5 separate regions of the Homo sapiens genome follow, and regions 1, 2, 3 and 4 are each linked to region 5. Evidence: fine-mapped expression QTL. A gene starts in region 5. Each other region holds a variant in brackets. All regions are shown on one strand. Distances are between the middles of the regions.

What was found.
Region 1: its variant is fine-mapped to the expression of ATP10D in whole blood (TOPMed, PIP 0.95).
Region 2: its variant is fine-mapped to the expression of ATP10D in whole blood (TOPMed, PIP above 0.99).
Region 3: its variant is fine-mapped to the expression of ATP10D in whole blood (INTERVAL, PIP above 0.99). The same link has a PIP of 0.9 or more in neutrophils.
Region 4: its variant is fine-mapped to the expression of ATP10D in lung (TOPMed, PIP above 0.99). The same link has a PIP of 0.9 or more in blood mononuclear cells, fibroblasts, monocytes, nasal epithelium and whole blood.

What each region holds. Positions count from the first base shown.
Region 1 is chr4:47,559,771-47,564,906 of GRCh38, forward strand. ATP10D (ATPase phospholipid transporting 10D (putative)) reads left to right here. Exons shown (of 23, transcript NM_020453.4): 14 at 1,179-1,305; 15 at 3,811-3,995. Among named protein-coding and RNA genes, the nearest start is that of ATP10D, 77 kb to the left of the region's middle. The variant C/T (reference allele first, on the strand shown) is at 2,581.
Region 2 is chr4:47,445,870-47,451,005 of GRCh38, forward strand. It overlaps COMMD8 (COMM domain containing 8), which reads right to left. Exons shown (of 5, transcript NM_017845.5): 5 at 4,918-5,136. Among named protein-coding and RNA genes, the nearest start is that of COMMD8, 15 kb to the right of the region's middle. The variant T/G (reference allele first, on the strand shown) is at 2,109.
Region 3 is chr4:47,409,087-47,414,086 of GRCh38, forward strand. All of the region lies in intron 8 of GABRB1 (gamma-aminobutyric acid type A receptor subunit beta1), which reads left to right. Among named protein-coding and RNA genes, the nearest start is that of COMMD8, 52 kb to the right of the region's middle. The variant G/A (reference allele first, on the strand shown) is at 2,419.
Region 4 is chr4:47,539,999-47,545,134 of GRCh38, forward strand. All of the region lies in intron 9 of ATP10D (ATPase phospholipid transporting 10D (putative)), which reads left to right. Among named protein-coding and RNA genes, the nearest start is that of ATP10D, 57 kb to the left of the region's middle. The variant A/G (reference allele first, on the strand shown) is at 3,113.
Region 5 is chr4:47,483,180-47,488,315 of GRCh38, forward strand. It overlaps ATP10D (ATPase phospholipid transporting 10D (putative)), which reads left to right and starts at 2,096. Exons shown (of 23, transcript NM_020453.4): 1 at 2,096-2,340. RefSeq lists enhancers at 1,933-2,227, 2,199-2,268.

The sequences.
Region 1 (5,136 bases), 77 kb after region 5:
AGGTGGATCACCTGAGGTCAGGAGTTCAAGATCAGCCTGGCTAACATGGTGAAACCCCGTCTCTACTAAAAACACAAAAATTAGCCGGATCTGGTGGTGCATGCCTGTAATCCCAGCTACTCAGGAGGCTGAGACAGGAGAATTGCTTGAACCTGGGAGGCAGAGGTTGCAGTGAACTGAGATTGCGCCACTGCACTCCAGCCTGGACGACAGAGCAAAACTCCATCTCAAAACAAAAACAAAACCAAAAACAAAAAGCCTGCCCCACACACAGTTAAAGGAAGAATGGAGAGTTCAAGATCAAACCAACTCTGCCTTTTCAATTGAATGATCCTACCCTTGATTAAAATGTAGCCCAACAGGTGTCAGATTCTCTCAAATCGAATGACCTGTGGCCAAGAATAAGTAGGCAGAGAGGGGAATTGCCTCACCTGCTTTACTCCACTCTGCTTTATAAAAACTGAAATGTAGATTTCTCTTTCTATGGCAACCTAAAGACAAAGGAAAATATATTATTGATCACTTCCCCAGGAATTTCATTCAATTTTTCTTTGGAATAAGACTTGTTTCACCCATAGGGCCCTTCTCTTTTTACCATTCATTAACCACATAAAATAACCATCAAAGGAGAATGGCGTGAACCTGGGAGGCGGAGCTTGTAGTGAGCCGAGATCAGGCCACTGCACTCCAGCCTGGGCCAGAGCGAGACTCTGTCTCAAAAACAAAAACAAAACAAAACAAACAAACAAAAAAAACATCAAAAGGTATGAAAGGTGCTGCTGGTTACAGAATCCTTCGAACTAAACAGTCCTGATACCACTTTCTCAACTGCACCATTAGAATCAAACTGGATTTAACTGTCAATTGGAGACCACTCCCAACTGCATACTTTCTGATTTAATTAAAGACATTAACCCACTGTCATCATATATGGTGCCTAGAATTTCCAGAGATGCTGAGTTAAAGGGTCATCCATCATCAGTGTTGCACTAGTCTGACCACAGAGTTTGGGAAGCTAGTGTCCAGGTGGTGTGAGGATATGGATCTGACATGGCTGTGCCCAGAGGGAGGAATATGTAAAACAAGTTGATGGTTTGATATTTTGCCAGAGGTCAGTCCTGGTATTCCCACAAGATCATATGGCTTGCTTCATACCTCTCTTTTAATTCTTCCCGTAGGTCATGAGTGACACTGAATATGCAGAGTGGCTGAGGAATCATTTTTTAGCTGAAACCAGCATTGACAACAGGGAAGAATTACTACTTGAATCTGCCATGAGGTTGGAGAACAAACTTACATTACTTGGTAGGTGAATTATGTTTGTATTGCCTGAATGGAGGATTTTGAAAAACACTGGATATCTTTGAATAAGGGTTATTTTCTTCCATTGTTATCTAATAAACATATATGGTTCTGCCTACCCTGTCCAGTCTGATCTCTATCCAACTTCCAATCCATTCTATTCTGTTGTCCACTGCAGTGAACTAGACTTCACTTGTGATGGGGTCAGGATGGTCACCCCAAGAAGATCATGTAAAATCCAACACTTAACATAGACTACAAAGCCAAGTAAATGTTCCAATAAATATCTTGGTTCAAATCAAGATAAATATCAAGAATAGAGTTTCTTGTCAGGCATTGGATAAGGTGCTTAATACGTGTTATCTTTTTTTTGAATTCTCACAACAAATCTCTATCTTATGTAGAGGAAATTTGGGGCACAGAGCAGTTCAATGACTTGTTCAAGGTCACATGCCAGTAGCTGACAGTTACTCATTAACCAAACATGGAGCTCATGTTTGCCTGGCTCCAAGCTTTTTATCCTGCACCTGCTACTGGACTAAGGAAATTTATTTTTCTTCTCTTCCTGATTTCAACTAAAATTGCACAACTGACCCCTCTTGTCTTGGATTAAACTGCATCTTAGAATTATCTGAAGCACTTTAAAAAATATTGATGCCTGCATCCTATCCCCTGAGATTCTGATTCAAGTGATCTGTTGTGTGGCTTGGGCATTGGAATTTTTTAAAGCTCCCTAAAGTGATGCTAAAGGCGGTCAAGTTTGAGAACCACTGTCTTAGAGTCTGGAGATCTAGATTCTAATATAAGCTCTGATATACCAAGATACCAGCTTCTGAGCTCCATTCCTCTATTTAGGAGGAAAACATTGACCTAACTTAGTATCTAGCAAATAGAGCAATGATGCCTACCCTAAGTGATTTCTCTGTGACAGTGTAAGTAGTATAGGTCCACATTTCCTCATCTGTGATTCCAAAATCAAAAATGCTCCATGGGTTTAGTGCCAAAACTCATTTGGCAGAAAAATCATACCTGATTTGATATAAGACTATTTATAGTTATTATCCTAATTTAGGTGAACATTTGTCAGTTTTCCTGCAGAAATATTAATATGCTTGATTAACAAGTATTATAGAATATGGTATATGCACCATATTACTTTTTTAATATCTGAAAAATGTTTGAATTCCAAAACACATATGGCCCCAATTGTTTCAGAAAAGGGAACTGTAGACCCATGAAAGAACACTGCAAATAGACATTGTATCTTACTGGCAGGAG[C/T]ATTCTTTAAAAGCCTGCCCTTTAAAGGACATGAACAGACATTTTTCTAAAGAAGACAACAACAAGTGGCCAACAAACATGAAAAAATGCTCAACATCACTAGTTATCAGATGCAGACAAATGCAAATTAAAACCACAATGAGATACCATCTTACACCAGTCAGAATGTCTGTTAAAACGTCAGAAGACAACAGATGTTGGCAAGGATGCAGAGAAAAGGGAACGCTTATATACTGCTGGTTGGAATGTAAATTAGTACAACCTCTATGGAAAACAGTGTGGAGATTCTCAAAGAACTGAAAATGGAATTACCGTTCAATCCAACAATCCCACTACTGGGTATCTACCCAAAGGAAAAGAAATCATTATATCAAAAAAGTACCTGCAATCATAGGCTTATCACAGCACTGTTCACAATAGCAAAGTCACAGAATCAGATTTCTAAGTGTCCACCAACAAACGATTAAAGAAAATGTGATATAATATATATATATACACACACACACACATATATACACAATGGAATCCCACTCAGCCATAAAAAAGAATGAAATTGTGTCTTTTGCAGCAACATGGATGAAACTGGATGCCATTATCTTAAGTGAAATAACCCAGAAACAGAAAGTCAAGTACCACACGTTCTCACTTATAAGTGAGAGCTAAATAACATGTACACATGGACATGGAAAATGAAATAGTAGACATTGGAGACTCAGAAAAGTGGGAGGATAGGTCGGGGAGCAAGGGATGAGAAATTACCTAACAGGTACAATTTACACTATTTGCATGATGGTTACACTGAGAGCCCAGATTTCACCCCTACACAATATATCAGTGTAACAAAACTGCGTTTGTGCCCCCTAAGTCTATAATAATAAAAATAAAATCCCACCCTTATCCTTGGGAATATCATAGAATTATAAAATTGTAGTGTAAGGTTGCATAAATAATTGACTCAAATCCCTTCAATTTACAGATAAGAAATCTAGCCAAAAGGAGAACGAGTAAGTTTGATAAATCCATTGATCCCTGAGGCTTCCTTCCCAAAATATTACATTGCATATAATTTTGGTCTGGGTCGTCAAACCTCCTTTGACTCTCCTGAGCAGCTGGGCAGTTTATGTAGTGTAGGGTTGAGTTGGCTAACAGATATGATTCAACTGTAGACTAGCTGAGCTTCAGCTGGCTTTGGTTTCTTACAAGTCCTATTGCACTTTGGTTATTTTTTAGGTGCTACTGGCATTGAAGACCGTCTGCAGGAGGGAGTCCCTGAATCTATAGAAGCTCTTCACAAAGCGGGCATCAAGATCTGGATGCTGACAGGGGACAAGCAGGAGACAGCTGTCAACATAGCTTATGCATGCAAACTACTGGAGCCAGATGACAAGCTTTTTATCCTCAATACCCAAAGTAAAGTGCGTATATTGAGATTAAATCTGTTCTTCTGTATTTTCAAAGGCATTGGAACATTTGAGATTTGATGTATGCAAGGATTAAAAAAAAAACAAAACAGCAACCGTTAGCTTTTTTTGTTGTTTGTTTGTTTGTTTTGGTTTTTTTGAGACGGAATCTTGCTCTGTCACCCAGGCTGGAGTGCAGTGGTGCAATATCTTGGCTCACTGCAACCTCCACCTCCCAGATTCAAGCAATTCTGCTTCAGCCTCTCAAGTAGCTGGGATTACAGGCATCTGCCACCACGCCTGGCTAATTTTTGTATTTTTAGTAGAGACGGGGTTTCACCTTGTTGGCCAGGCTGATCTTGAACTCTTGACCTCAAGTGATCCGCCAGCTTTGGCCTCCCAAAGTGCTGGGATTACGGGGTGAGCCACTGTGCCCTGGCCAGCAACCATTAGCTTCTTGATAATTTTTTCTATCCAGAAACCTACCTTGTGCTTGGAAGGATGTCTATTCTTCTAAAGGCCTGATGGAAAATTATAATGATTCAGAGGAATCATTGCTGAATAAAGGCATTAGAAGAAAGTTTTTTTTTTTTATTTGCTTTCCCCCCTCCACACTGGATTACCAGGGATCTGACAGGACTTAGCCCAAAATGAGAAAATATATCAAGTCCTGGTACAGGAATCTACCTCCCTTTTAAGATAAGAAAAAGTGATAGTTTTTATTGAAATCAGGTGAATAAATTATTAAATATTTTATGGCAATTCTAAAAATAGACTCAGGGAAATCGTGCCCTCTTGTGGTAATTCCTAGGTAGTGCTCCCGAGAATATCATAAGTTTGAAGAACTGTTTAAGGGAAGAGGAAAATGTCATTTTTTAAAAAAGAAGGAAATTTAGGAGGCTTAGACTCAGCCCAGTTTTTTCTATTTTTGCCTCCCGCTAATCTCTAACACCAATGTTTAATCAGATAAATAAGGGTTTTATTTTTCTCAGAAGCCTTCCAGTATAGTGATCCCCTCCAAGATTTGTGCACATTGTTTATTTTTCTTGAAAAACTTCCTCCCATTCTTCTTCAGCAGTCAGACTTAACCAGTGATATCAATCCCATCACTGCAGTCTGCCTTCTTTGAAATCTTGTGGAGCTTTTCTTCAGGATC
Region 2 (5,136 bases), 37 kb before region 5:
AATAATAAAGATTGAAGCATAAATAAATGAAATATAGAATATAAAAACAAAATAAAAACCAATGAAACTGAGTTGGTTATTTGAAAATAGAAAAATTGACAAATCTTTAGCTAGACTAAGAACAAAAGAAAATTCACAATTAAAAAATCAGAAATGAAACAGAGGATACTACTTCTGATGCCACAGAAATAAGAAGGATTACAAGAGACTGCTATGAACCATTATAGGCTAACAACTTAGATAACCTAAGAGAAATAGATAAATTCCTAGAAACACACAACCTACGATGACTGAATCATGAGAAAATAGAATATATGAAGACTTACAACTAGCAAGGAGATTGAATCAGTAATCAAAAATCTCCCAACACAGAAAAGTCAAGGACCAGAGGGTTCCACTGAAAAATTCTACCAAACATTTAAAGAAGAATTAAAATCAATCCTCCTCAAACTCTTCCAAAAAACTGAAGAGGGAACACTTTCAAATTCATTGTATGAGGTCACCATGATCCTGATGCTAAATCCAGACAAAGATATTAACAAAAAAGACCACACGCCGATATCTCTAACAAACATAGGTACAAATATCCTCAACAAAACAATAGCAAGCCAAATTCAACAACACATTAAAAAAAATCATACGCGATGATCAAGTGAAATTTATCCCTGGGATGCAAAGATGGTTCAACATATGAAAATCAATCAATCACATAAACAGAAAGGATAAAAATCACATAATGAATTCAATAGATGCAGAAAAAGCATTTGACAAAAATTAACACCTTTTCATGATAAAAAACACTTTCAACCATTAGAAATAGAGAAAATTATATAAATATAATAAAGGCCACATATGAAAGCCCACAGCTAACATCATACTTAGTGAAAAACTGAAAGCTTTTTCTCTAACACCAGGAAGACAAAGATGTCTACCCTTGCCACTTCTATGCGATACAGTACTGAAAGACCTAGCTAGAGCAATTAGGCAATAAAAAGAAGTCAAAGGCATCCAAATCAGAAAGAAAGAACTAAAATTATCTTTGTTCATTAACGATGCAATCTTATGTGTAGAAAACCTTATTTAAAAAAGCTGTCAGAACCAATAAAAGAATTCAGTAAAGATGCAGAATACAGATTCAGCATACATAAATCAGTTGCATTTCTATATACTAAAAATGAACAAGGCAAAAAAGAAATTAAGAAAATCCCATTTACAATAGCATCAAAAAGAATGAAATATTTAGAAATAAACTTAACCAAGGAGGCAGAAAACTTGTACACTGAAAACTACAAAACATTGCTAAAAGAAATTAAAGAAGACACAAATAAAAGACAGCACTGGTCATGAATTAAAGATTCAATATTTTTGAAATATCCACATGACTCAAAGCAATCTACAGATTCAATGCAATCCCTATAAAATCCCAATGGCATTTTTTACAGAAATAGGAAAAAGCAATCCCCAAACCCCAAAATTCAAAGGAACCACAAAGACCCCTAGTAGACACACACACACACACACACACACACACACACACAAAATCCTGAGAATGAACAAAGCTGGAGGCCTCGTACTTTCTGACAGGGGCCTACAAATGTATGAAAAAAGCTACAAAAATCAAAAACAGCAAAGCAGTAACATAAAAACAGGCATGTAGACTAATGAAATACAATAGAGCACCCAGAAGTACATCCACATGAATATAGTCAACTGATCTTCAACAAGGGTGCCAAGAATACACACTGGGGAAAGGATAGTTTCAACAGGCAGGGTTGTGAAAACTGAGTGTCCACACATAAAATAATGAACCTAACCCTTATCTGACATCACACACAGAAACCTGCTCAAAATGGATTAACTCCTTTCTCATTGTTGGAACTGAAATTTGTAGATAGGGAAGGATAGGAGGCTAGAATAATCCATGTAATGGATTAGAGTTGGAGACATCAATATGAGCTTGTTTAGCTTAATATAGATATGTATGATAATATAAATATAGATATGAGTATATACCCAGGTTGGTATACACATACATATTTCTTAGTTCTGTCAGCACCAAAAGGGCCTAAAAGAAATAACACCTCAGTAGCAATGAGTATACCTAGCTC[T/G]GTTTCTAACACCATTCTTCAATAAAAGGAACCAAGAGTTCCTTGGAGAAATAACTGATTCTAGGATTGGACAGGAAATACACAAGATGAGCCTGGGGCATTTTGCACTGCCAGAGAGTAAGAAAATACTTTCCAAGATGAAAAAGAAAAAGAAGATGCACCCCCCGCCCTGAAAAAAATAAAAAGTCCAACCTCATTGATGGGGATATGTCAAAGGGACACAGGAGCCAAGTGAAAGAGCTCCTAATGGCCAAGCCATTAGAACAGTTTGAGTAACAAAGCAGTACTGAATTATAACCCAAAGTATAAAATGAGTCCATACTGATAATAAGTAGAAATCTCAATAGTGGAAAAGAAACAAATGGGTACAAAATTCCACGACTTATGTAGATATTCCAGCCTCAAAAAGGAGAGCACACCTTCCCACTCCTTAAGTATGGGCTGAACTATGGTGATTTCCTTAAGTACAGTAAGAAAAGGAGAAAATGAAGAGTCAGTTCACAGTGAAGAAACCTGTACCTCAGCCAGGTATCAAGATTAATATCAAGCCATAAATCACGTTAGTAGTATGTACCCTTGATTTGATGTGATGAAAATGGCATTTTATCTCTGTGATCTTCCTTCCCAACACCCATAACCCAAGTCTAATCATGAAGAAAACATCAGACAAATTCCAACAGAGAGAGACATCCCACAAAGTATTTCGCCCACACTCTTCAACACTGTCAAGGTCATCAAAAACATGCCAACTAAATGTAATACGGCATCTAGGATAGAATCCTGGGGCAGGAAAAGGACACTAGGGAAAAACTTAGAAATTTTCTGTTTGAATAGACTCTAGAATTTACTTAACATTGTGTCAATATTAGTTCACTAATTATAACAAATGCACTGTACTAATGTAAAATGTTAATAATATAGAAACTCTGTACTATCTCTTAAAGTTTGGTTTATCTAAAACTGTTCTAAAACAATATAGGGTCAATTTACATGGGGGAAAAAAGATAAGCCACAGATTAGAAGAAAGTATCTGCAAAGTATCTATCTAATAAAGGATTTGTATTCAGAATAAGTCAAAAGAGCTCTCAAACCTCAATACTAGGAAAACAAAAAATCCAATTGAAAAATGGGCAACAGATCTGAGCAGACACTTCACTGAAGATGTATACATGGCAAATATGCACATGAAAAGATGCTTAACATCATTGGTCATTAGGGAAATTTGTTAAATATTGCTAAAACCACTGTGAGACAATACATATTAAAATAACTGAAATTAAAAAGACTGGCAATGCCAAGTGTTGGCAAGATGGAGCTGGAACTCTCATAGACTGCAATGGAAATGCAAAATGTTAAAATCACTTTGAAAAAGCTTGACAGTCATTATTCTAAGCGAAGTAACTCGGGAATGGAAAACCTAAGCTATGAGGATACAAAGGCGTAAGAGTAATATAATGGACATGGTGGACTTGGGGAGGAAGGCTGGGAGGGGCATGAAGGATAAAAGATTACATTTAGGGTACAGTATACTGCTCGGGTGATGGGTGCACTAAAATCTCAGAAATCACCGCTAAATAACTTCTCCGTGCAACCAAAAACCACCTGTACCCTCAAAAATTATTCAAATAAAATTTTTTTTTAATTTCGGTAGTATCTTGAAAAAATAAACCTACCATATCATCCAGCCATTTCATTCTAAAGTACTTGCTCAAAAAAAAGCATATGTTCGTTCAAAGATGTATGCAAGAAAGTTCGCAGCATTCTGTGTATTCTAATGCCTAAAACTTGAACCAACCAAAATATCCATCAATAGGTGAATAAATTGTGGCAGAACTCTACAACATAATACTTCTGAACAATAAAAAGAAATGAACTACGGATACATGCAACATGGATGAAACGCAAAATAATGCTGAAAGAAGCCAGATTAAAAAAAAATTACACACTATATGATTCCTTTATACTAAACTTCCAAAAATGCAACCATCTATAGTGACAGGAAGCAGATCAGTGGTTACTTGTGGGAAATGGAAGGGACAGGGACTATAGAGGACCAAGAGGAAAGCTTCAGGAGTGATCAAATGTTCATTATCCTAATTTGTGGTGATGCTTTCATGGATGTAAATATGTATATGTCAAAATATCACATTGCACACTTTAGTATGCACAGTATTTAGTATACTGATTCAATTTCGATAAAGCTGCTGAATGTGCTAATGGAGTGTTACCAAGTGGTGAGAGAGAGACTAACTATAGCAAGACGTTTTTCTTGTAAAGGAGATACTGCATGGAAAGCTGAAATTTAGAAGAGACTTCACAATGAGTGCTACTCGAAGTGCTGTTCTACAAACCATCACTGGCCCATCATAACAAATAACTTGCACAAGAAGATAAATTAACTACCACACTAAGCACACTATTTCCTTCAGCTGATAATTTTTTTAAAACCAAAATTTCTCGATGAAGACAGCAGTATACTGATACACTTTCTGGCCCAAGCTCCTTATTGAATCACTGACCTGTAACAAACAGTTCACAGACAAGCACTTCTCTGCAGACACATTTTGAGTAGCACTGTTTAGATCACACTCAGAAAACACTCTAAGCCTATCCTCATCTGTATGATGAGAATAGTAATAATTGCTCCGGATGCCTCAAAGAATAGTCTGATGCTCTAATAAGCCATATGGCTTGCAAATAGCAAGCACCTATTAATTATGTATTATTGAGTTACGTATAATTACGTATAACTACTGAGTTATTTGGAGTCATTTAAAATAAAGCAATATATAAAAATAAAACAAGACACTTTTCATTTGCTCAGAATGCTTGTTGTTAAAGTTAACTGAGGTTACAAATGGTTTGTTTTTCCAATGAATTTAACATCCCAAAGTATTCAATATTGAGTTTATTAACAAAAGTGGATGTGTACATAGTCTTATCTCATATTTGAATATACACACTGCATAATGACAGCTATTTTTTATCAGAGCAATGTTTCCCAAACATAGAAGCGCAGAAGTAAAAT
Region 3 (5,000 bases), 74 kb before region 5:
GGAGCATGCAGACGGGCAGGTGTGGGAGCCGGGGCAAGCACTTTTGGGCTCTGGCCCCATGGTAGCATCTAGAGTTGGGTGCCTGCGACTCCCGAAGCCCCAGTAGGTGTGTTACAGTGCTCCTTTAGCTCTGCCATCTGCAGACAGCTTAAGTGTTAACCAGCTCAGTGCCTTTTTGGTACCCAGGTTCTTGTCTGGAGTCCAGGAAGAATCAGGTCACATGGACAAGTTGAAGGATGGTAAATGTGGAGGATCTTATTGCTGGATGGAGGTGGCTCTCAGTGAGATGAATGGGGAGCTGGAAAGAGGCTGGAGTGGGAAGATAATCTTCCCCAGGAGTTTGGCCATCCCGCGGCCATCTCTCCGACCATCTCCAGCCAAACTTCTCTCGACATTCAGACACTCCTTCTCTTCTCTCCTTCTCTATTATGCCACTCTTCTGCTCCTCTGCTCCTCTGCTCTTCTGCTCATGGAGCCCAGGATTCGGGGTTTATATGGGTACAGTATGGGGGGCATGGTGGGCCAAAAGGCAATATTTGACACTAAAACAGAAATGCCTGTTCCCATTTAGAGCTGTGGGGTTCCATGCTTGAGGGTGGGGCCTTTGCCGGGGAACTACCCCCTTCTTTCCAGTATTTTCCTGTCTCCTGTCCATATCAAAATGAAACATCAGGCAAACTGGAATCAATTTATTCAGATAAAATAAAAAGACTACAAAACAAACTTTAAGCAAACACTTTCAGCTTTTGATTCCACACTAGGATATCAGAGAAATTTTTTAAGATGATAAAGATTGAATAAAGGCAGGAGGAAAGCCTATGTCATGTCAGATCTAGATGTATAAGTCCTGCAGAGGACTTCATGACTGGCTAATAAATAAGTAAAATGTTCCCATTTGACTGACCTTTATTTCATAAACAGGCTGTTTGAGTAACATTGGGCTTAAATGTGGTAAGAATTCATTGTCTCTCGAATCAGTAAACTTTTATTCCTGGTAAATTGACTTTTTAAATTTTGAATTAAAGGAGAACGAATAAAGAAATTCCTCAACTGTCAGAAGACAATGCTTAAAGGAGATTTTTTTAAAATATGTTTTTATCCATGGAAAGTTAGACTACGAACTCCACAAATGATTTCCACAGAAAAATAGACATAATTCTGACAAAATTCAAAAACAAATCATATTAAAACAGGGCAGAGTACTTTGTATCAGAGTAATCCTCCTATTGATAGAAATAATAAACTGTGAGCACATTTTTAGAAATCTGCTTTAAGACATGGGAGAGTAACAAAACAAGCAAAAACTAAAAGAGAATCAACTTTCAAAAGGAAGGAACCACACTGTGTGAAATCCATGTTTATGCAGCTTTTCCCCTGAAGCCATGTCCCAGACTGAGGGATGTGGGGCAGCAAAACTTCAGCAGAAACTGAAGTTGTATTGACCTGAAGAGTCAGATCATGGAGTTTGATTGTTCCAGAGTTCCTGGAAATTTTAGAAGTGAGCCACAACAGAAACTCGACACCTGAGTGTAAACTTCCCCAGCTTGATCCCTGAGCTACAAATGTACAAATGTACAAATACCAAGGAGCACAGAAAGAAAAAATAGCTAGAAGCTGGGGGAAAGAAAAATGAACAGAGATTTTAGTTACTGTCCACTATATAAAAGTCAGAGTTTGGAGTTTGAATCCAGCCTGTTGGGGAGTGTGGGGGTGGTAAGCACATTAGGTTTTCCATAAAAATCTCAAGAGGCTTATACCTTAAGGGTAAAGATAAGTCACAAGAATAAGGGATTCCCCTTGGGTTAAGGGAAAATCTAAAATAGGCTCACCCTAATGACACATAAAACCAAGTCTCCACATATTCTGGATGATATGTTAGTCATATAACTGCCTACCAAACCAAACTCAACATTCTTTGGGGAAGATAGCAGAATTTAGAGTCTCTATGGTGCATCATTCAAAATATCCAATATATAGTAAAAAATTACTAGACATAAGAAGAAACAGGAAGATGTGACCATCATCAAGAGAAAAACATTTGTCAACAGAAACAGAGCAGTAAAAGTCTCAAATATTGGCCTAAAAGATAATTAGTATAAATAACTATAATTAGTGTATTTTAAAGTTCATAAGAAATAGCCCAAAACTGGAAACAGCCAAAATATCCTACAATAGATGAATGGTTAAACAAACTGTGGTATATACACACTATGGAGTACTATTCCAGTAAAAAAGAAATGAACTGTTGATACATGCAAAAACTTGGATGTCTCTCAAGGGCATTAGGTTGAGTGAAAAAAAACAGTATTAAAAGGTTATAATACTGTATTATTCCATTGATATAATACTCTTGAAATAACAAAATTATAGAGATGGAGAACAGATTAGTGGTTGCCGGGAGTCAGTGATAGTGAGGAA[G/A]GATGTGGGATGGGTATGACTGATTATAAAGAACTAGTGTGAGGGAGATCATTGCAGTAATGGAATAGTTCTGTAACTTAATTGGAATGCTTGTTACATGAATCTACATATGCAATAAAATTACACAGAACTATACACACTTTATGTCAATGTCACTTTCCTGACTTTGATATTATATCATAGTTATGTAAGATGTAATCAGTTGGAGAACCTGGGTGAGGGGTACATGGGGCCCCTCTGTGCTATCTTCACAACTTTCTGGGAATCTGTAATAGTTTCCAAATAAAAAGTTTAAGAGAAAGTCAGTAGGAAAAATTGATATAGTGTATAAAGAAATGGGGAGTTTCAGAAGATAGTTGAAACTATAAAAGTGGAACAATGGAAATCATAGAATTAAAATTTTTATTAGATGAATTAACATCACATTGTATACAACAGAAAAAAATGATTAGCGAAATTGAAGGTCATATTGGGCTTCTCTCAATTTCTCAATTGTAGCAGTTCTTACCATAAATGCTACTACTTTGGGGTTGCCTTAATAGACACTCTCACTCTTGATTTATTATTTGGTATCGCTGTTAATTGTTCTTATGGGATCCTGTGCTTTTCCACAATAAGACTTCCATGATAGTGAGTATATGTTTATTTGTATAATTATCTTTTAACATCTGTTTCTCCTTTTAAGCTACAGCTTCCCAATTATACACCCCAGAGCCCTTGTCTTTTACATTCATTGTTCTTTCCTCAGTAGCTAAAATGTAGATAACAAATAAGTACTTGTTGAATGAATGAATTAATTAATTAATACTGGAGAGTTGTTCTCCATTTTAGATGTTTTTAGAAATCACGCATTCAGTGTTACACTATGTTTTATAAAACTCGTACATATTCATAATAAGTAAGAAAAAGAGACTATACTCCACTTCAGCTTCTGCTCCAGACTGTCTTACTGTTCCTATCATTTTTATTTTCAAAAAAAAATTTAAACATGCTTTATATCAACCTCTGGTATTCTTTTTGAATCACTGTGCCATATAGCATTACATGTAATCTTTAAAGGAGCATTATGGCTAAGATTTTGAAATGGCACTGTTCGTCTGGGAGTAACGCCCAAGGTTCATTGTCTCAACGCCAAGGAAATCAAGGATGCGGTCACATAAGGAGTGAGGTTAAGAGCAGAGGTTTAATAGGAGAAAGAAAGAGAAATGCTCTCTCCTGCAGAGAGAGGGGTCCCAAGCAGGTCTTCTGGTCTGTGGTGAAATGCAATGGGTTTTACAGCTGAATAAGAGGAGGTAGTGTCTAATTTACATAGGGCATGAAAGATTGGTCAGACCAGGTCTTCCATTTGCATAAGGCTCAAAAAACTGGTTAAGGCTAGATGTGCCATTTGCATAGCATGTGAAAAAGCTGGCCACCCCACTCTAATTTTTTATTATGCAAGTTGGTTCTCTACCTGGCTGGCGCCATGTTGCCTGCTTCTCTGTACTGTACTCGGGTGAAAAAGGAAAGGGAAGATGGAGCCTTCATGTTGAACATACCTGGCTTCCAGGTAGCCCTTTTCTACTGGCACAGCTGCCAGCATTCACCGTGAAAGCTTCCAACTTGCTTATCTATGTCTACAGCTTGATTTTTCAGACTGCTCTTTGTTAGAAAAGAAATGATTTGGGGGCTGCTTTTTGTTAAAACAGAAATTCCGCCGAGGTCTCTGTTGCCCTTACTATCTGTCTAAATAATTTATTTCTATCTCCTGTATCAATTTTATAAACTTCTTCATATTTAGGTGGGATAATAATACAGCATTACCATCTCATGCAAGTTATAATCATCCCTGCACCTGCTTAGGTTTGGTAGTTCCTAACTTTCTTATCCTCTTCTAAAACCAAAAGTCCAGACAGATAATATGTCAATAACAAAGCAAGTATTTACTTCATCTATTCAGTGTGTCATTTCAGCAGTTACATTAATAATGCAAACTGTGTGGTATTTTAAATTGCTACCTGCTAGTTAAACTCAAAAATATAAAAAAGACTATTAATTTTTTTAAATATAATGGTTGGATGATCCTCTACTTTTAGATGCTTGTAAACAGTTAAATTTAAATGACATCTGTGCCCTGGTCCCAGACAATTTTCATTTGAGGGATTTCCTCAGTATTTGCCTTGGTTCACTGGAGCATAGAGTGGCCTTGTTCAGTTGTTACACATTACTTTTGATCGCTCTGGCTGGGCAGTCAGGTCAAGGGGTATTTGTACTGAAGCTTCAGGAGTGCTTGCTTTGTCTTGATTTATATTTCCTCCAGCTGCTCTGAAGCATCTTTTTATTTCAGTGCAGATGCTAGATCCAGACATTCGGAGAGTTTCAACCTCTAAGGTGATAAAGACTGTAGATTCATAAGCCCCTCAGGCATCATTTGAAAATAGAGATGGTATTTAGAGTTTTGAAAGATAGATTTCACAGTACAACGAGGCTTTAAGTAAGCTACCTCTGGGCCACTTTTATACGCATCTGGAACTTTTTCAGTTATATATTCTGGCCACAATCCCTTTCCATTTGCAAATAAATGAAATGGCTGAAATGGTAGC
Region 4 (5,136 bases), 57 kb after region 5:
AAAGTTCTAGAGGTACTAACTTTGCCTTTGACCACTTCTCTACCATAGACACACCTAGAGCTTCTGGTCTTTTTTATGCAGTGGTTTAAAATTAAACACATGTGTATACACACACACACAAACTAGTGGAGACCAGTTCTCTCTAGAAATTAATTCTGAGGCATATTTTCACTGAAGTGAAAACTATTTTAACAGTGTATCTGTGTTTTAATGGCTAGTCCTTTAGGGTTTTCTGCAAAAGTGTTGCCTAGGAGACAATTTGGTGAAGAATATTGCTGCTTGGAAACAACCTCTCACACATGGAATTGCACTAAACACACCTGACAACACCATTGTATATTTTAAAACCTTCTAGCTTCGAAATGTGTTCCATGTACTGGCAGCATCAGCAACACCCGGGCATGCTTTTAAATTGCAGAAACTCAGACCCCTCTTCAGAGCTTCAATTAAATGCATTTTAATAATATCCCCAGGTGATTAATATGCATATTAAAATTTTAACAAGCCACTCCTTTAAAAGACTTTAAAGAGAATGACTTTCTTAAAAATAAACTTTTAAATTTAGGATAATTTTAGATTTACAGAAAAGTTACAAAAATATCCTGGAGGGTTCCAGCATGCCCTCATGCCGTTTCCCCTGCTGTTATCATCTTGCATTAGTCATATGATATATTTGAGATAAGTAATGAACAAATGCTGATACATTATTATTAATTGAAACCCATATTTTATTTGGACTTCCTTCATTTTTACCTAATGTTCTTTCTCTGTCCCAGGATCCTAGCTAGGATGCTGCATAACAGCCATCATTTTGGTTTCTCTAGGTGACAGTTTCTCAGATTTTCTTTCCTTTTGATAAACTTAGCAGTTTTGAGTGGCATTATTCTGGGATTTTGTAGAATGTCCATCAATTTGGGCTTGTCCAGAGTATACATTTATGATGCACAATTTGTGAATCTGATTTACATGGAGGCAGTAGCATTGAACACTTTTCAAGAACAAGGATTTTGGAATCAGGCCTCCTGAGTCTGCATCCCATTTCCACTACCTACAAGCTGTGTGGCCCTTAACAACTATCTAATTTCTCTGTGCCTCAATAAAAAGGATCAATGACACTATCTATCTCATTGGATGGTTAAGAGAATGAGAGAAGATAATTCACATAAAGAATTTAGAACAGCAAATGGCACAAAATGAGTTCTCTATAAATATAGCTGTTGTTACTGTTGTTGTTGTTGTAAATATTGTTAAAATAAGAAATAGGCCTATCTCTTAAGGAGCTCATGGTCCGATGTGGGAGGCAGATATGTAAACATAAATTATCATGTTCATTGTCATAAGATATAAAGTCAGTGTTCTTGTTCCATTTTGTTTTGATTTTCAGGCAGTCAGTATTGGAGGTGGATTTTGCACTGATTAAGGCTTGGGATGTTGAAGCCAAGATACTGGATGTTCTTACGATGCTGGAATTGTATGGGGAATTTGTTTAGAACAAAGGTTTATATATCAAGGATATATGGGTGATACAGTTGGAGGAGGTTTAGCTGAGTGTGTTATTTACAAGCAGGCAAAAGTTGGAATGCTGGAAATGTTTGCAGATTTAGTTCATAGTGAAAGGGTTGATGGAGGATTGATGATACAATTGAAGGAAGCTCATCTGAATGCTGTTCACCTTTGTTTCGGGCCCTTTGGAGAGCACATTGAAAGTATGATAAACTTTTTGTTCTGTAGACTCATGCCCACTTCTTCCATATATCAAATTGATGCAAGTAACAGGCTATAGGAAGATTACTGGGTATTTGAAGAGGGGAATGGGAAGAAAAGACAGATCGGGGATTAAATAATGAAGAGAAATAAAGTAGACAATTTGGTACCTATCTCAATATCTACCTTCAGACAAAGGAAAGAATAGACTTTGTAAGTTTTTTCTTATGAAGCAAAAAGTAAGAATTCCTGCCCTGCTTTGAGGCATTCATGTAACTATTTTGGAGTCTACCTTAAGGTAAGTATTAAGAAATATTAAAGAAATACTAAGAAATATTAAAAGTCATAACGATTTGGATAAGTTTTATCAATATTATAATAAACCTTTGTTTCTCATACAATATATTTTTTTAACACAGGGTCTCACTCTGTTACCCAGGCTGGAGTGCAGTGGCATGATCTCAGCTCACTGCAGCCTCAACCCTCTGGGCTCAAGTGATCCTACCACCTTAGCCTCACAAGTAGTTGGGACTATGGGCACATGCCACCACGCATGGCTAATTTTTGTATTTTTTGTAGAGGCAGGATTTCGCCATGTTTCCCAGGCTGGTCTCGAACTCCTGGGCTCAAGCTATCTGCCAGCCTCGGCCTCCCAAAGTGCTGGGACTACAGGTGTAAGCCACCACACCTGGCTTCACACCTAATTTTTATAAAATTCTCACTGAGCCTGGAATTATAGCTCCAGTAGCTTTGTTTTCTGAATCACATTGTAACTTTACTGGTCTATTTCCTTTTTTGAGAAGGAGTCTAGTCTCGCCAGGTTGCAGTGAAGTGGTGCGATCTTGGCTCACTGCAACCCCTGCCCCTTGGGTTTAAGCAGCTCTCCTGCCTCAGCCTCCCTAGTAGCTGGGATTACAGGTGCCCGCCACCACACCCAGCTAATTTTGTGTATTTTTAGTAGAGATGGGGTTTCGCCATGTTGGCCAGGCTGGTCTCAAACTCCTGACCTCAGGTGATCCACCCACCTCGGCCTCCCAAAGTGCTGGGATTGCAGGCCTGAGCCACCGGGCCTGGCCTATTTCCTTTTCATAGCTTCCACAAAATGATTAAAGGTTGAGTCACTTCATATCTTCTTGATTCCACTTTTGCAATTGTACTGACTGAACAAGTTTTCCCTACAGTAATAGCTGAGCTACCTGGAACTATACTAATTATATAGTTGCATGACGACTGATTTCCCTAATGATGGCTAGGAGTTACACGATCATTAAATATAGCCTCCATGTTTATATGTGTTTTGAAGTACAGTATTACCCCCTTATCTGTGGTTTTACTTTCCACAGTTTCAATTACCTTTGGTATAGTAAAATAAGATATTTTGAGAGAGAAAAAGAGAGATCACATTCAC[A/G]TAAGTTTTACTACAGTATATTGTTATAATTATTCTATTTTATTATTAGTTATTGTTGTTAATCTTTTACTATGCCTAATTTATAAGTTAACATTTATCATAGGTATGTATGTATATGAATAAACATAGTATATTTAGGGTTCAATACTATCCGTGGTTTCAGACATCCACTGGGGGTCTTGGAACATATCCCCTGTGAAAAAGGGGAAACTTCTGTATTTTTAAAATATTTTTTAAATGGTGTTACGTCATCAATAAATTCCTTGAGCTACTCAAGGATTTATCAGTCTCAGCACTATTTGGGCTAGATTAATCTTTGTTGTTGGGGGCTGTCCTGAGCATTGTAAGATGTTTAGAAGTATCCTTGGCCTCCACCCACTGAATGCCAGCAGCACACTTCACCCAGTTATAACAAGCAAAAGTATCTACAGCCATTGCCAAACCCCCAGGGGACAAATTCACCCCATGTGGAGAACCACTGAGCCAACTTATTATATACAAATCACTGCTGAGGAGCTATAATATAGTGGGTAGTGTGCTGGCTTTGGAGGCAGAAGACCTAAATCGAATTTCCAGCTCCACCCACAACTAGCTGTTTAATCATGGTTGAACTGCTTAATCTCTCTGGGTCTTAATCTCCTCAGCTGCAGAGTGGGCAGTGATAGTTTCTACCTGATGGCATTATTTTGAAGATAAAAAGGAAATAGGTATACATATATATTATGTACACACACACACACACATATATATATGCATGAAAAAAGGAGGATCTCAAAAAATATTAACTTCCTACCCCACAACTTTCCCTTAATACTAGGGATATTTCATTGACATGTCTATTGATTCATTCATTTATTATTCATTTAATAAATTTTTATTTAAATGAAAAAACATGGACTCATTGAAATTAAGCAGGGGATATTGGCCATGTGTTAAAAATTGGCCCTGTTAACATATATAGGTAGATTCAGAAACAGTAAAGCATGGGGCTGTGGAGTTTAATAGAACTGATTTTAAGACTAATTTGTACCATTTTTGTGAGATGGGGCAAATTACTTAAGTTTATTTATTTGTAAAATGCTGGTATTAATAGCATCTGCTGAGATATAATGATTAAATGAGGCAAGTGCCTGGTACATAAGCAAATGCCTGGTACATTCTGCACATGTAATCTATAAATTCCCAATGAGTGGTATGAGTAAGAGTCAGTATAGCTACAGAGGTCTTTGTGGAGGAGCTGGCATTTGAACTAAACTTCTAAAGATGTTCAGTATTTATGTAAATAGAAAGGACGCAAATGAATATTTCAAGCAAAGGCATAGATGAAAATGGAGGAGATCAGAATCTCTGGGACACAATATGTAAACCAGTTTTTGAAGCTGGAAGGTCATACTGGGAAACATTCCGTGTTGTTTAGGCAGATTATATGATGAGACTTGCAGAGCTGGGAAAGATCTTAAAGTCACCGAATCCAAATCGTTCATTCTGAAATGTTTCATTCTGAAAACAAAGGCCCAGAAACAGCAAGTGATTTTGCTGAAAGCCACTTAGTCTTTGAAAAAGTTGGTACTGGAACCTAGGATCACCACATAGACCCTTAGCCTCTCCTTGTCCTTAAAGAATACAGACAAAAACTATTACAAAAAAATAGAATGTGCAAACATTCTTCACTTCATAGAATAACTTACCCAAAGCCATACTTTATCCTATAGCTAAATAGAGAAGACTGGCAATCCAACAAGCACCTATTTATCGATGGTCTATATTCCAGACACTGGATACAATGCTGAACAATTCACATAAGGCCCCTGCTCTCATAGAGTTTCTATTAGAGAAAATATTCACAAATATATTACTTTTTTAAATCAAGAAAAAAATTAGCGATAAGTACTTGGTAGAAAATTAAAATAAGGTGGTATAATATAAAATGATTGGATGGCCACTTTGAACTGGAGGGTCAGGCAAGGCCTCTCTAAGTGGGACATGGGGCTTAGATCTGAATGACATAATCTTGAAATTCCGTA
Region 5 (5,136 bases):
CACTTCTATATTATACAGTTGAAATATTGGTTTTTTAAAAAACTTCCTGAGAAGTGCAAAAAAGAAAACCTTTCTGAAATTACAAGAAAGTAAGTATCTTTTAAATTAAAAATTACTATATAGATTTAAAGTAGCTAATGTCTTAAATTAAGAATCGTATTTTGTCTTTTTCAAAATAGGAATCACTCTGAGGAGAAAATTGGATATTACAGAAGCATTGCAAAAAGAAAACACCAAACACAACAAAACCTAATAAATTGATAGAAACCCACCTTAATAGTGGTTATTCCAATGACCTTCATGGTATTTATGAGTATTGATTTTTAAAAATTTGATTAGAAATATTTAAATTATCAAAATGATACAAATTTCATTCAAATGACAGACACAAATAGAAAGCTAGTAATCTCCCCTCACTATCCTTCCCTGAGTAAACAATTTTGAGGTGTATCTTCACGTTTTTATATTTATATTAAAATAAACCAATATATAAAGAATATGTATAAGGCTAAGTTGTATTACATAATGTTTTCCATTATTCTACTACTATGCTCTTTAGACTTAAATATAATAGATTTTCTTCTAAGACAATAATTCAAATCTTAGTCAGTGATTCTCAACCCTTGTGCACATTAGAATTTCTAGAGGAGCTTGAAAAAAAGACATTGCCATAGCGCCACCCCCAGAGATTCTGGTTTAATTGGCCTGGGTGGGGCCTTGGCATCAAGCTCCCCGGTTCACTCTGATGTGTAGCTAGTTAGAACCACTGATTTAAGCAATCCAAACAGGCTACATGCCTGAATTGTCCTGGTATGTACGTTCCCAGGAAGGCCCTCTGCTGAGGTAACAACACCAGTGTTTGATTGGGAGAGCTCAGGGGGGCCCAGCTACAGTTTTAAGTCTCCTCTATAAGGTTGACTCTCAGATAGGAAATGTGTTTCATCTTAAAGGATGTTAGAGACAGTCATATGACTGCAAAAAGTGCTACTAGGGCCAGGAATTTCAGAGGCCATGTAAATGACAGTGTATTCTACTAGGCTGGGTTAATTCTGGGGATTAAGTTTGACTAAGTTCTAGAGATTTGTCCTTACCTGCAGATGGAGGCTTCCCTAATGGAGCATCATAGGAAGCCACACCCAGAACTTGTTTCTCCTCGTCTGGCAGAAGCACGTTCTCAGTGGGTGCAGAAACTTGTTTGGCTTCTCTTGGTCTGAGAGAATTTTCAAGCCGACCAACCAGCTCCCTGTGTCTGTACTGGTGAGCTCTTTACTAATAGTCAAACATTTGCATGCTCATTTAGTTTTCTTCACTCTTGTTGCACATCTGAGAAACACTTGAGAGAATGGAAGAGAGAGGCACAATATAGGAGAGCTGTGGAGAGTTTGGCCCCACTTTTTATATTTGTTTCAATGGGATAAAACAGGCAGCCAAGATTATTAGGTTTTGTTCTGAGTTATTGGTTCGGCCTTCACTAAATGGCTTTTCCTCTTTCCAAATTAGACATTTTGAGAAACCAGACAGGTTGTTGAAACTTATTTAGAAGTTTTAAAAAAAGTTGTGAATTTTAAGCAAACGGACCTTGGCAGGTGTATGGACAAAGCCACATTATCCTGAGTAAGGGAACGGAAGGGCAAGGTGTGAGGAAAACGACCAAATCAGAATTGTAATATTTTTCCTCATTTCTTTTCTAGTCATAAAAACAGTAACATTACATATTATTTATTTATTTTGTGGTAGGGTCTCACTCTGTCGCCCAGGCTGGAATGCAGTGGCGCGACATTTTTAGATTTGATCTCTTTTACCCTCCAAAAAATAATTGTCCAGTGTTCCACGTTTAGCTAAAACAGTGAATTGTTAGAATTGCAGCAAAACAATGAACCAAACCGTCAACCGCGAGCAACCTGTACTTGGGAGGTGAAAGTCAGAGGTGAGATTGTAAGGGCTCTGGGTCACTGGGGCATCTGCGCTGGGCAGAAGGGCAGCTCGGTCAAACAGCTGGAGCTGGGAGCCGGTCAGTTGCCAGGCCCTGCCGCTGCTACGTCACGGAGGGCGGGGCGGTGGGCGATTGGCGGTGCACTGCAGCTCGGGCTGCTCTGCAGCCTGGCGGAGACGGGAGGAGGAGCGGAGGGAGAAGTAGGTTGCGAGCTCAGCACAGGCTCCGGCGCTGGCTCCCGCAGCTGAGTTTGGGAGATGTCTAAGTGATTTTTTTTTTTTCCCGGAAGGCAAATGGCTGGCGTGGAAGCACAACCCGCTTTCACTCTTCGAATTTGTGCTTAGCTCTTTTCTTGTACCTTGCGACTCGTGACCAACATGCTGTGATGTGTGCCGAGGGAGGAATTGGTAAGAGTGAGACGGCGAATCCCTCTGACTGTCCCAGCCTTCTGCTTCACCGCCCACCCGCTTTTCCTTTCTGTTTCTCTCTCCTGTTTCTCCCCGCTCCACTTCCCTAGTCGTGTTTAGATTTGATGACATGGCTCAAAACTACAGTTCTGGGCTGTTACTGAACTAAAAAAAAAAAACAACAAAAGATAAAATGATTACACCATTTTCAATCATTTGTTAAAGGGGAATTTAAAAATCTATTTTAAATGCTGGATTTTGTAAAAAGGTAAACTGCACACGCGGGCGCACACGGGCACGTACATACACGCATTCTCACACACCTTTGTACACGCGGGCATACACGGGCACGCACACACACGCATTCACACACACACACACTCCTTTGTCATCCCGTTGTGAAATAAGCAGTTTAAAGAAATTTTGGTTATCTGCCTCAAAGGTGATGAAAAGGGAAGGTGTTGAAGATTTAGCCCAGCAGATTGATTCCTTAAGGTTGATTCCCTAAGGTTGATTCCTTAGGAAGAAAAAGGTGTTTGTATTGGAGCTTTCTCGGAAATAGTTTTCAAAGGAGTGCTACAAAGAAGCCCCCATGCTTCCCCCAAAACACTAACTTTAAAGAACCTAGTTGTTATTCGGGGCACCCTTTATTTTACGTTGTAAAACATGTAGTTTTAATTTACCACGTACAGCAGAGAGACATCAGTTGGTTAGGGAATGGATGGTTATTTTGGTGTCTGGGACCCTGTGCCTTTAGAAAGAATATGTTTTAACTGCTCTTATCATGCTAGCTCAGGTTTTTAAAATGTGATCTGAATAAGACCAAAGTTTCTTCTTGCGTTCTTTTCATGCTGGTTCTAAGCAGGGAGAAAAACAAGTCTGTATGGACAGAGCAAACCTCTAACTCAAAATCAACCTTGAGAGATGCATCAACAAGGACAGGGGCTCCTCATCCACCAATATTTACTTGTATCAGCCTTTAAATCATGTAGGTCACATTTCTGTGAAGAATAGCATCATCGAAAACCCTTGCTGACTTGTGAAGAGCAAAAATCATTGCAACGGAGTAGTTTGTTCAGTGCCCGCAGCAAGAACCTCCCACTCCGATCCACCTCAAAAAGTAATAACTGCTTCTTCTGGACTGTTTTCTATTCTCACTACAAATACGTATCATATACCTACATTGAGATAGTTTATTTTTATTAAAATGAGGTCATTTTATACATTTGGAAAAATAACTTAGCAACATTTTAAAGTTTTAGGGAGTTTAAAAATAACATTTAATTTTCATGCTAATTTAACATTCATTAAATTGCATGAAAAAGAGGGAAAATCTAAGCACTCTAAACTAGGATGTGGGGAGTGTTTGACCCTGGCTTAGCAAAACCTGAATACTTTTCATACTTAGTGACTAAATAGAATTGAATAGGGCCGGGCGCAGTGGCTCATGCCTGTAATCCCAACACTTTGGGAGGCCGAGGCAGGCGGATCACCTGAGGTCAGGAGTTCGAGACCAGCCTGACCAACATGGCGAAACCCGTCTCTACTAAAAATACAAAATTGGCTGGGCGTGGTGGTGCATGCCTGTAATCCCAGCTACTCGGGAGGCTGAGGCAGGAGAATCGCTTGAGCCCGGGAGGCGGAGGTTGCTGTGAGTCGAGATCGGGCCATTGCACTCCAGCCTGGGCAACAAGAGCAAAACTCCGTCCCCCAAAAAAAAAAAAAAAAAAATAGAATCTCATTTATTTTGCTATTGTCAGTAAAACGAAGGGAAATGCTCAAATATGATTATAATTTATAATAGAACAGAGGTGACTCACCTGTCAGACAAATGTACTTCCTATAATTGACTTTTTAAATTAAGGGTTAAAAAAATGTACACATATTCAAGCCTTCATTACATGTTTTCTTTATTGTCTGATATAGTTGGAAGTAGTTCTTCTAATGAAGAAGAATCAAAGAAAATGCTACAAGTAAGATTGTCTGAGAATTCTCACAGAACAATGCACTGATAAATATAAATTTAATAGTGCTTGAAGAAAAGGAGAATTGATTTATCAACTCTAGGAATAAATATATGTGTGCTGGATGCTATCACTATTCCTCGTCAGTTATTCCTTCGATATTTTCTTAGATAAATTTATTTCATTTCAGAAATCATTTTAGCCATAGAAACAATACTTTTTTATCGCTTTGCAGAATAAGGACTAACAGTGATGCTAGTTTTGTAAAAGAGTTGTGGCCTTAATGGAATTTTTTTAATGCTACTCAATAAAAGGTATATCAATACAACTATTTGAGGCAATTACGTGGTATTATGTATTAAAACCTGTGAATGTTGGGCCAGGCACAGTGGCTCATGCTTGTAATCCTAGCACTTTGGGAGGCTGAGGCAGAAAGATCCCTTAAGCTCAAGGGTTCAAGTATCTGCATGGTCCCATTTTGCTCCCATCTCTACAAAAACAAAACAAAACCTGTGAATGTTCATAGCCTTTGACTAAGTGATCTTGGGTCTAAAAATATAGCCTAAGGAAATAATATGAATCGCATATGAAGATTTATAAATGTTTATTACCATCTTATCTGTAATACAAAAAATGGAAACAAAGCCCCAATAACAAAATATTTAAATAAATTAGTGTAGTTTATGTATCTATATTGATAAAACTCAGTTACAAAAGTTTTTTAAAAATTTAATGACTTGGAAATATACTTGCAATGTATTCTGTAAAAAAGTGAAATTTAATATATTATCTTATGTGTAAAATATAATTTTGAAATAAATATATAAAATTC